Regions from separate parts of the Homo sapiens genome. Here region 1 is linked to region 2. The links come from fine-mapping of genetic effects on gene expression. A gene starts in region 2. The other region holds a variant in brackets. All regions are shown on one strand. Distances are from middle to middle.

Region 1 (5,381 bases), 39 kb after region 2:
TTGTCAAATATCAGTGCCTTGTTAATGCTAAGATCACTAGGATAAATAAGGTTACAACTGCTAAAATGCTACTCTTTAGGTTTGGGAGTCATCCATGTGTTCCCCTTTCTTATTCAGGAAATGGGCAATTGGTTATTTTAACAGTGCCTTCTAAGACTAGGTGGTTCTAGTTAGCTCTCAAATTCTGTTGGGACTTGGGACGTTTTTCCTCATATTACTGCCTTGTGTTTTAGCAACCTGAGGTCACCCAGGTCCCGAGAGAAATCTTTCATTTTCTCCGTGAGTGCTCGGGGGATGGGGAGTTCTGTGATGATGGCAGCCTGTGCTGTTTCTCCTTCAAGAAGTCAGACAGCCACTTTGGACCATCCGTAGGCTATTCATTCCTTCAACAGTTTGACAACTCAGAAAAGCTATAGCTCATCGTGAAGGCCTCAAAGGGAGGAAAATCTCTCCAGAATAAAATGTAGACAAGACTATGTCCGTATCAGGTCAAAGGTTGGGGTTTTTCCCTGTGGGTAGGAAGGTCAGCTCTGTATTTACCAAATAGTTATTGAATAACCGCTCTGCCTGGCTCAGGGAACAAGGGTATTATCCCTGCTTAGATGGAGTAAAACCTGTGCTCTTCGCCTGCCTGACTGCTGTTAAGGTTGATTTATATCATTATTAAGACAACTGTCGGGGCTGTTGGGTGGCCTTCCTGGTTTCTCCACTGACTTGCCTTTTGATTTTTGGATGTCAGCTCCAGGACCTTCACTCTCCATGCCTAAAGGAAGGCCTAATGCTTTAAAGAAACATTCTGAGGCTCAGGTGATTTCAATCCAACCAATATTAATTGATCATCTGCAATGTGCTAAGCCTGCAAGGAATCAAAAAAATGAATGAAGAATATCTTCCATAAGGAGCTTACAAAAGAGTAAAGAGGATGAGACAGGTACACTATACAAAGACTGTGTTGAGCTTAGAATTCCAGGTTGATAGCTAGGTGGTGTGAGAAGCAAAAGCAAACAGTGAAGCATCCGGGAGCACTTTACCTACGTGTATCTCATTTGCACGTCACAATAACTCAATGAGGAAACTGAGTCACAGAGAGGCTAGGTAACTTCTCCAAGGTCATTCAACCAGGCAGGGGTGAAACTGAGCTCATATTGGAACCCACATCTCAGGGAGCAGGGATTCCTCTTTCTTTCAATCAGGATGTACTTCTACAGGCCAGGTGCGATGGCTCACACCTGTAATCCCAGCACTTTGGGAGGCAGAGGTGAGCCAATCACCTGAGGTCAGGAGTTCAAGACAAGCCTGGCCAACACTTAGTGAAACCTAGTCTCCACTAAAGGCACAAAAATTAGCCGGGCGTGGTGGTGTGCATCTGTAATCCCAGCTGCTAGGGAGGCTGAGGCAGGAGAATCACTTGAACTCGGGAGGCGGAGGTTGCAGTGAGCCAAGATTGCACCACTGCACTCCAGCCTGGGTGACAGAGCAAGACTCCATCTTTTAAAAAAAAAAAAAAAGAAAGATGTACTTCTGCAACTTGAAACAGCTTTGTAAGATTTGGTGGAGGATTTGCAGACCGTGGATTTCTAATGTATCCATGAACCATATTTTTATTTCCAACAGGTCATGGATTGACGGCAGTCAAGGAAAAAGCAGGAGCCACTCTACGGATTCATGGTGTAAATTCTGGATCTTCTGAAGGAGCCCAACCAAATACTGAAAACGGAGTCCCTGAAAGTGAGTGATGTGTCTCCTCTGGGTGTTCTTGGACTTTATTACACCATGTGCATAATCAGAGGTTTTCCAAGTTCAGATCAGCGACGTGAACTCTTAAAGGATTTCTTTTTTCTCTTTAGTAACAGATGCAGCCACAGATCAGGGCCCTGCAGAAAGCCCACCCACTTCCCCTTCATCAGCCTCTCGGGGTATGCTGTCTGCCATCACCAATGTGGTTCAAAACACAGTGAGTCGCTGGCTGCTTCCTCTCTTTCCCCTGTATTTCCCAGGGCCTTCTTTTGATATTTCCATTTACCAGTGACCTAGATACATCAGAGAAACGATGGCCTTGCTCAGAACTTTGGATTATGGTTTTTTTTTTAATGTTTTCTGCTACAAAGTAGACGTAACCTTGGATTCAAAATAATAAGGGCAAAATGAAATATATTTTATGTTTAAAAGAAGGGAGCTGTTTGGAAGGAACATTTTTCAGTCTGATTTAACAGTGTCCTTTCCAGCTGCGGCAAGGACAGCCTCTGGTTGAGGGGAGAGAGAACTCTTTATCAGAGCTGGGACAGCTGTTTTTCCTAAATGCTCTGCTTATCTTATCCCTGAGTTTGAAAAAGCATTAAACCGTTTAAATAAAAAGTACCCGTTACAAGACAGGAAAAACAGCCCAAATATGTTTCTGAAGTGTTTCCAGAGACCAGCGTTCTTCCCCCATCCCTACCTCTTCATTCCCACCCTTCCTCCTCCTTACACCACCCTAAGTGTATCCCCCTAGATCCCTGCCTACCTCTTAGAAGAAGCTCCATATTAGCAGCAAAACATTGGTGAATAATGAAAAAAGGGGAGGCACCTCAACTGAGATAAGGCAGGTAGCTGGTCATCAGGGTCAGGGAGCAAAGATTTATTTTGTTTTTTCTTTTGTTTTTTTGAGATGGAGTCTCACTCTTGTCACCTAGGCTGGCGTGCAGTGGTGCAATCTCGGCTCACTGCAACCTCCGCATCCCTGATTCAAGTGATTCTCCCACCTCAGCCTCCCAAGTAGCTGGGATTACAGGTGCCCACCACCACACCCAGCTAATTTTTGTGTTTTTAGTAGAGATGGGGTTTCACCACGTTGGCCAGGCTTGTCTTGAACTCTTGACCTCAGGTGATCCTCCTGCCTCGGCCTCCCAAAGTGCTGAGATTACAGGTGTGAAGGTGTATTTCTTACTATGTAAACTAACTAGTTTTTCTAAAAATATGGCTCGTGTCTCATTTAGTCATTCATTCATTCATTCATTCATTAAAAGAAAAACAACAACACAAACATGATTAGCCCTCACTATGTTCCAGTATCTATGCTAGATCTTGGATATATGCTGGCAAACAAGAGGGCACAATATCCCAGAGGACTGAGGC[G/A]ACTGAACAAATAAACACAATGTAATTCGGGAAGAGGTGAGGGCTGCGGTCAAACATGAGAGGATCTCACCCAGACCTTGGGGTCAGGACATGCCAGAAATATAGAAAATGACTGGTCTTCTCCTTGCTATTTGAGGACCTCTAGACTGGGGTGGGGGAAGTAAGGAGGAGCAGCAAATCTGTCTTAGGAGTCAAGTAGCAATACAAGTCAACCACCCCCGTGGGGGGTTTGTAGGATGGGAGATGGATGGAGCTCTGTCAGTACCTCTGGTATAAGAAATGAATTCACGGCCTATCTGAGCTACCAAGAGGGCACTATGAGTTTGTCTTCAGCAGCCTCACATTCCTTTCTGTGTTCTCTCCAACCTTCTTGACCCCTTTTTCCCAAGTTCCAGACACTACCCCTCCAAGTCTATCCTTAACACAAATCCCTGTGTCCTTTCTTCCACCATTTTATTCTCAATAAAATAATTTTTCATAGGATGTTAGCAGGCACTAAGTCAAATTACACAGAAGTGTGAATTGCTGCTGTCCCATCATCCCCCCGAAGTGTGCGCACTGAAAACTGATTTACAGCATGATTACTGGTTGGCTCCCAAATCTAAAAACAAAGTCTAAATACCCAAGATGAAAATAAAGTATATTAATTCTATGAAATTAAATACTTCTATTTAAATGATAATTATGAAGATTGGAAAATGCATATCAGTAATAATATCATAATAAAATACAATTTATATCATTTTTATATATGGTGGGGAAAAACACAGATGTATGCATATTATAATTGCAGTTATACAGTTGGAGTGTAAGTATGAAAGAGTTGCAAAGACATGTATGCAGTTCTGTTCACTTGAATAGTTTATGTGTGAGTAAGTCTGGGTTATTTTAATTTTTTAAAAAAAGCAACAATGACTGACAAAGGGATTTGCAGGAGGATAGCTATATAATACACCAGTTTCTAAAGCCAGAAGTACAAGGAAATCAACCTGTCTCATTTCATGGATATACTAATTATAGGCAGTTATTGCTAGTTTCTGAGAGTATGCAAGAACCATCTGAAACAGCCTGAGGGTCTTACCCTCCAGGGCCCTAGATTAAAGAATTCCCTAAATTAGCAGGACTGTTTGACATTTTAATAGACTGCTCCAAGCAACTCTGTTACTTGGGTTAAAAAAATTTTTAAACAGAAACAGCAATTTATTTTATGTTAATTTTATGTCTTAGCAATTTATTTTATGTTAATTTTATGTCTTAGATACACATCCATTCATACACAGAGAGCCAGTAAAATTAATCCCTTTGTGGGATTAATTTTATTTTATGTGCTTTGGTTTTTTTCTAAGCATCAGTCTTTAATAACATTGTATGTCCTACAAATTATATAACATATGCTTTTCCAAGGAAACGAGAATAGGATTAAATGGATGATAAATCTCCTGATGAGAAAAAATTGTGACTTTATATTGATTTTAATATTTGAAGATAGTGCCAGTTACCTAGGAGTTGCTGACTGCTGCGAAACAGCAAAACCTAAACATCTAATCTCATGCAGTTATCTCATCTGCAGGGTAAAAGTGTCTTAACTGGAGGCCTTGATGCGTTGGAATTCATCGGCAAGAAAACCATGAATGTCCTTGCAGAAAGTGACCCGGGCTTTAAGCGGACCAAGACGCTCATGGAGAGAACTGTTTCCTTGTCTCAGGTTGGATTATATACGTTTGCAATTTTTTCTTTCAGTCAATAAAGTAAATAAATTTTTTATTTATCTTTTTGAATAGCTCATTTAAAGCATGTGATTCAAATCAAATGACACCAAAGAGCAGAGAGAGAAAACTGAGCTTCTAATACCCCCATTTCCCCAGTCACTTAATTCCTCAGAGGAGACAACCAGTTAACAGTTCCTTAAGGATTCTATCAGAGACCGCAGAGAGATATGGATATAGATCTATAGATGCAGCTATACATAAATATACAGATGTAAAAGTACATATGTATGCATGTGGATAGACATGCACATAAATACACACATATTTTTTCAACCCAGTGGTAACATACTAAACACACTCTTGTTCCTTGCTTAATTCACTTAATATTATTTCTTGAAGATGATCCATTTATGTCATGGTATGCATCCCATCTCTACCACTTAGTAGCTGAGTGACCTTGGGCAAGTTACTTAGCCCCTCTGTGCCTCAGCTTACTCATCTGTACACTGGGGATAATTTAAATACCTACCAATAACTTTGTTGTGAGGATACGCTGAG
Region 2 (5,381 bases):
AAAACATTGAAAAACAATTATACGTGCATTTGTGGGTGAGGACATATGCAGCAAACATTTAGAAATATGAGTGAGGGGGGCTGTGCATGGTGGCTCACACCTGTAGTCCCAGTACTTTAGGAGGCTGAGGCGGGAGGATTGCTTAAAGCCAGGAGTTTGAGACCAGCCTGGGCAACACAGCAAGACCACGACTCTACAAAAAAATTTAAAAATTTGCTGGGTGCAGTGGCACCCTGTGATCCTAGCTCCTTGTGAGGCTGAGGCAGGAGGATTGCTGGAGCCCAGGAGTCTGAGGCCGCACTGAGCCGTCATCACACCACTGCACTCCAGCCTAGGTGACAGAGTAAGACCTCATTCCTAAATAAGAAAGAAAGAAATATGGGTGGGAGGGATATACAACCACCTCAAGAAAATGGCTACCTGCAGAGATGGTGGACAATGGAAGGGATAGGGTTTCAAACATATCCGTAACATTTTTTTCTTTGCAAAGAAAATTCTAAAATAAATACTGCAAAAAATTTTGTTAAATCTAGATATCATCATAGTATTTCCTATATTTTTTACACAAATAAGTATTTGTCATATTATTCTTTACTTTTCTATATATTTTAAATACTCCAGAAAATTTTTAAATGAACTTAAAATGTTTTACATTGCAAATAAATAAAATATCTGAAATAAAATCTGGTAGTCCTGGAAGCAGCTACATGAGTAAAAGGGACAAATTTGCAGTGGGCAAAACAAAAAACAAACTTGTTGCCAGGATAGTTTGCTTTATTTTCTTTATTGGATAGGTGTGGTTTGGGTCAAAGGAGAAGAGGAACTCAGCCCTTTAAAAAGAGAACATCTGATTGGGCTGTTACGGCACAGCAGGGAAGGGAAGGCAGGTTAGCAAAGGTGCTTGCTGTCTCTGGGCAGGAGCAGAAGTCCCAGGCACAGACGTCTGTGTATATGCTACACCAAAACACACCTGTTGCAACTGGAACATAATTTGATAACACTCGCAAAGCCAGAACTGGAAGGGACTGTGCCGAGCAATGCTCTTTATTTTAGAGGTGGAAAAACTGAGTTACAGAAGCCACGTGTTAGTTAAGGTTCAAAGTCTCGCTCAATTCAAAAAGGCTATTGATCTCAATTTAAAGCAGTTTCCACCCACTCTCACATTAAGATAACTTTCTGGTTTTTCTATGAATTTAAAAATGACAGGCTGGGTGTGGTGGCTCACGCCTGTAATCCCAACACTTTGGGAGGCCGAGGTGGGCAGATCACTTGAGGTCAGGAGTTCGAGACCAGCCTTGCCACCATGGCAAAACCCTGTCTCTACTGAAAACACAAAAATTAGCCGGGTGTGGTGGCACGCACCTGTAATCCCAGCTACTCAAGAGGCTGAGGCAGAAGAATCGCTTGAACCCAGGAGATGGAGATGGTGCCACTGCACTGCAGCCTAGGCCACAGATCAAGACTCTGTCCTCCTAAAAAATAAAATAAAATAAATATTCAGTAGCTTAAAAAATTATTAATATAAAAATATTTAATAAAAATATTAAATAAGAAATATAGCCAGGCACGGTGGCTCATGCCTGTAATCCCAGCACTTTGGGAGGCCGAGGTGGGTGGATCACCTGAGGTCAGGAGTTCGAGACCAGCCTGGCCAACATGGTGAAACCCCGTCTCTACTAAAAAATACAAAAATTAGCCGGGTGTGGTGGCACGCACCTGTAATCCCAGCTACTCAAGAGGCTGAGGCAGGAGAATTGCTTGAACCCAGTAAGCAGAGGCTGCAGTGAGCTGAGATCACGCCACTGCTTTCCAGCCTGGACGACAGAGCAAGACTCCATCTCAAAAAAATGAATTAATAAATTAATTAATATATATATGGAAGAAACTGGAATATAAGGAGCAAACTAATTGTCAATAGGAGAATGATTGAATGAAATATAATTACAAACATATTGCAATATATAAGACAAGTCTTAGAAGAGTGGTTTTGGTTGATATGTATTGACCAAGAAAGATGATTATAATATATAATAAATAGGGGGAAATTTACAAAATACGTCAACATCTCGCCATTTTTATAAAAAAGCAAACAAAAAGCTGTTTATGCATACATGTATTTATATAAGCTTAGAAAAACTATGGTAGGATCCACACACTATAAAAAATGGTAGTGATATTGAAAGGGAGAGACTAGGGCTATTTTTTCTTTAACTTTGAATTTATAATTCTTCAAAAAGAAGAAGGGATGGAGTGAGAGAGGAGAAAATCTGCCTTAAACACATCGCTCAGAAAGAATCACTATTTTTAAATTGTATTTCCTCCGACTTTTATAGAAAATACAAAATTGTTTACAAAACTAGTTAATACTATAAACACTGCGCTTCCTCCGCATCTGAGTTCATATTAAGCCATATTTGAGGAAGGCCTTCATATGTGGCCTTCCCTCCATGTCAACGAATCCTCATTTTTAAGGGCTACAACATATTCGATGTCTGAAGTTACTGTAGCTTACTTCACCAATCTTACTGGGGGACATTGAGATTGTCTCCGGCTTCCCCCCGCAGAAACAACTACAACAAACATCCTTGTACATACATATTTGCCCATTTGACTGCCTACTTAGGACAAATTCACAAATGTGGAATTCCTAGGCCAAAGCTAATACATCGGAGTTTTAACCCACAGCTCCAAACTGGCCTTCTGGAAAGTGGGTTTTCGTTGTTTGTTTGGGGTTTGTTTGTTTTAAATCTATCACACTCCCACCGACAGGGCAAGGGAGTGCTGCTTAACGCAGAATCAGGAGATCAAACTTTAGCTGAATTTGAGCGACCTCTTCCCAGTGACACGGCGGGGGGTTTTCCAAGCCCTTTTAAGGAAAGGAAAGGGATCTGGCGAACCCCGAGACCCACCCGCCCTGGGCTGGAGAGGCGGCGCGCTCTGGCTTTCCGCGCTGGCACAGGGGTGGGACAAGCCAAGTTTCCAGGAGACTCGCCCAGCGCGGGCCCGGCCCTCGCAGCGTGGGGGTGGCCGGGCGTCCCCGCGGCGCTCCTCGTGGGGCGGGGCGCAGGCGGGGCGGGGCCCCCTCTCCAGCCGCCCGCCCTCCGGCCGCGTCCCCGCCGGCCCTGCAGACGTGGCGGGGCGGGACCCGCTGGGCACTCCCGCGCGTACTCGGCCGCCTGAGCGGTAAGAGCCCCGGGCACTCGGTCCCCATCCCCTTCCCCGGGGGGCGGGCGAGCGCGGGGGCGGCTGCCCGGGGGTGGTGGGAACACCATACCTTGGCGCCTCGTCCGGGACCCACGAATCCTGCCCTCTGCGTTAGTGAGAAGCAGTGGTCAGGGAGGACCCGGCTCTGGGGTGAGGGTCTGGGGCGGCGCGGCCGAGGGACCTGCGTGGGTGCGGGCGTGTGAGTGTGTGTGTGTGAGTGTGTGTCGCTCCGGGTCCACGCTCATGCACACACCCACACGCCCACACTCAGGGTCTGCCCCCTCGGCCTGCGTGAACCTCCGCGGAGCCTGCCTGGATCTCCCAAAGTATCCAGTCCTGGCACCAAGCAAGTCTGGAAAAGTGCCCCCAATGGCTCGGGGCCAAGTCAGAGGTGGGCTGCAGGGTCCCCCAGCCCGGGCACGAAGGGAGCAGGTCCCTGTAAGACAGAGGCCTCGTCCCAGGGTGCGCCTGCCCTCGGCCTTGGCACAGGGAGCTCAGGCCTTGACCTCCCCGCTCCCCTCGCCTTACTCCTCCCCCAACAGCCGACCCACGCCCTGCCTGCTCTTCCAGTCCAGCCAACACTCTAAGCAGGCACCGCCTCCACTCGCAGCCCCCGGGATGGGTCCCACTCCCTACCGCAGATCCCCAGGCCCCCTCCACCCAGTCGGCTAGCCCTCGCCTCTGCCATCCGGTGAGTATTTCCAGGCACCTCAGACCAGGCGCCTGAACGTCACTGCCTTTTCTTAAGTAGGAAGACATCTCTCTATGGGCTGTGAGAGCATTACCTATGCCCTACTGATCCCATCATTTCCCATCCTAAACATCTTGAAGGACACAGGCAGGTGGCTTCTTAAATCAGTGTGCTCTGAACTCCCTGTGACCTCAGCCAACCTGTGACAACTGAGAATGAGACAGGCTCTATCCTCAGAGCCTCTTTTTGCCCTCTCTGCAGCCTAGTGGCTCCTTCCCTACCCCACCCATAGGCCTGCGTCCCCGCCCTCCTTTCTTCCATCAAGCCTGAGCTTGGGAAAGAATCTGATAAACTTCTTACATTGTAACCTTTAAGTGAAGGAATGAGACGTTAGGGATGGATTTGAGGCACAAGTGAGACAGTGCAGAAGGAATTTGAGGGTTGGAGGGGGCTTTCTTGAATCTGAGCGATTCAGACCATAAAAGTAAACTTGTCTTTGTTTATTTGACCAGGCTTACATCAAACATGGTTTCTCTTTTATTAATATCAAACACAATGTATTTCAATTCAGTAAATATCTGAGGGACAGAAACCAACCTAGGTGCTGTTGGTCACAGTCTTGGAGGACAGAATGGCAGAAGTAAATACTCCATAAATACATGGAATAGAAATCTGTGCAAAGTGCCAAAAACATAGAAGAGGTAGCAGTTATTTCATTGGAAGCAGTGGGGCAGATTAAGGAAAAATTCAGAATGAAAGGTAACATTAGACACTGGGTGTCTAGAGGAATAGGAGTTTGCCAGGCAGCTGGAGGAAGGGCAGCACCGGGGCAGAGGAACCAGCGTAAGCAAAGGCAGGGAGATGTGAAGAGTTATGGGGAATGGAGAAAAGACTGGTGAGGCAGGAGTGGAGGATACTGAGAGTTGCAAGAGGTGGAGAGAGATTGGAGCTGGATTATGATGGGAAGTGTGAAGATATTTACACCTAATGGTTTTTGAACAGGAGAGCAAATAGGTCCAAAAATGCCTGGCAGCCTCACAGAGAATAGGCTGGAGCCTGGGTACGTAGACTTGTCAAGCTTTATACAAACTCATACAAACTGCTACAACCTGATTAAGAGCCTCTCATCCAGAGTTTTTATTCCTGGTCCTTCGCTGACTGGCACTGTTTTTGTTTTTTTTTTTTAACTGGGGGAGATGACCTCACACAGGATATCATGCTAACCAAATTTTTATGCTGCCAAGTCAGGCCATTTTTTTTAAAAAAATCCATCCACTGTCACTATTTCATAAAATGAAAGACATTTTAATACCAAGAAAAAGCACAAAGGCTAAACTTGAAAGATGAAGGCAGTCCTTTACATTTAATAAATTTAGATTTATGAAAAACTTGCAATCTTGTCCTCATTTTTCTCTATCATCACAGACTTGCCCCAGTCCTGCAGGTGGAGTTTGGAAAAAAAAGCATCCAGATCAGTTTGTCCATC

Direction of the effects. Positions count from the first base shown, and alleles are read on the strand shown. Sizes are in standard deviations (SD) of each study's normalised expression.
As copies of G replace A in region 1, the expression in nucleus accumbens of the gene that starts at base 3,155 in region 2 goes down (small effect, 0.23 SD a copy in GTEx).

The links. PIP is the estimated chance that this variant, and not a neighbour inherited with it, causes the effect.
Region 1: its variant is fine-mapped to the expression of FAM114A1 in nucleus accumbens (GTEx, PIP 0.93).

Annotation. Positions count from the first base shown.
Region 1 is chr4:38,903,908-38,909,288 of GRCh38, forward strand. It overlaps FAM114A1 (family with sequence similarity 114 member A1), which reads left to right. Exons shown (of 15, transcript NM_138389.4): 5 at 1,615-1,728; 6 at 1,848-1,954; 7 at 4,685-4,819. Among named protein-coding and RNA genes, the nearest start is that of MIR574, 39 kb to the left of the region's middle. RefSeq lists an enhancer at 118-287. The variant G/A (reference allele first, on the strand shown) is at 3,115.
Region 2 is chr4:38,864,652-38,870,032 of GRCh38, forward strand. FAM114A1 (family with sequence similarity 114 member A1) reads left to right here and starts at 3,155. Exons shown (of 15, transcript NM_138389.4): 1 at 3,155-3,183; 2 at 3,747-3,895. It overlaps MIR574 (microRNA 574), which reads left to right and starts at 3,381; the gene lies at 3,381-3,476. It also overlaps a transcript of TLR6 not described here. RefSeq lists silencers at 2,919-3,398, 3,449-3,498 and an enhancer at 3,706-4,289.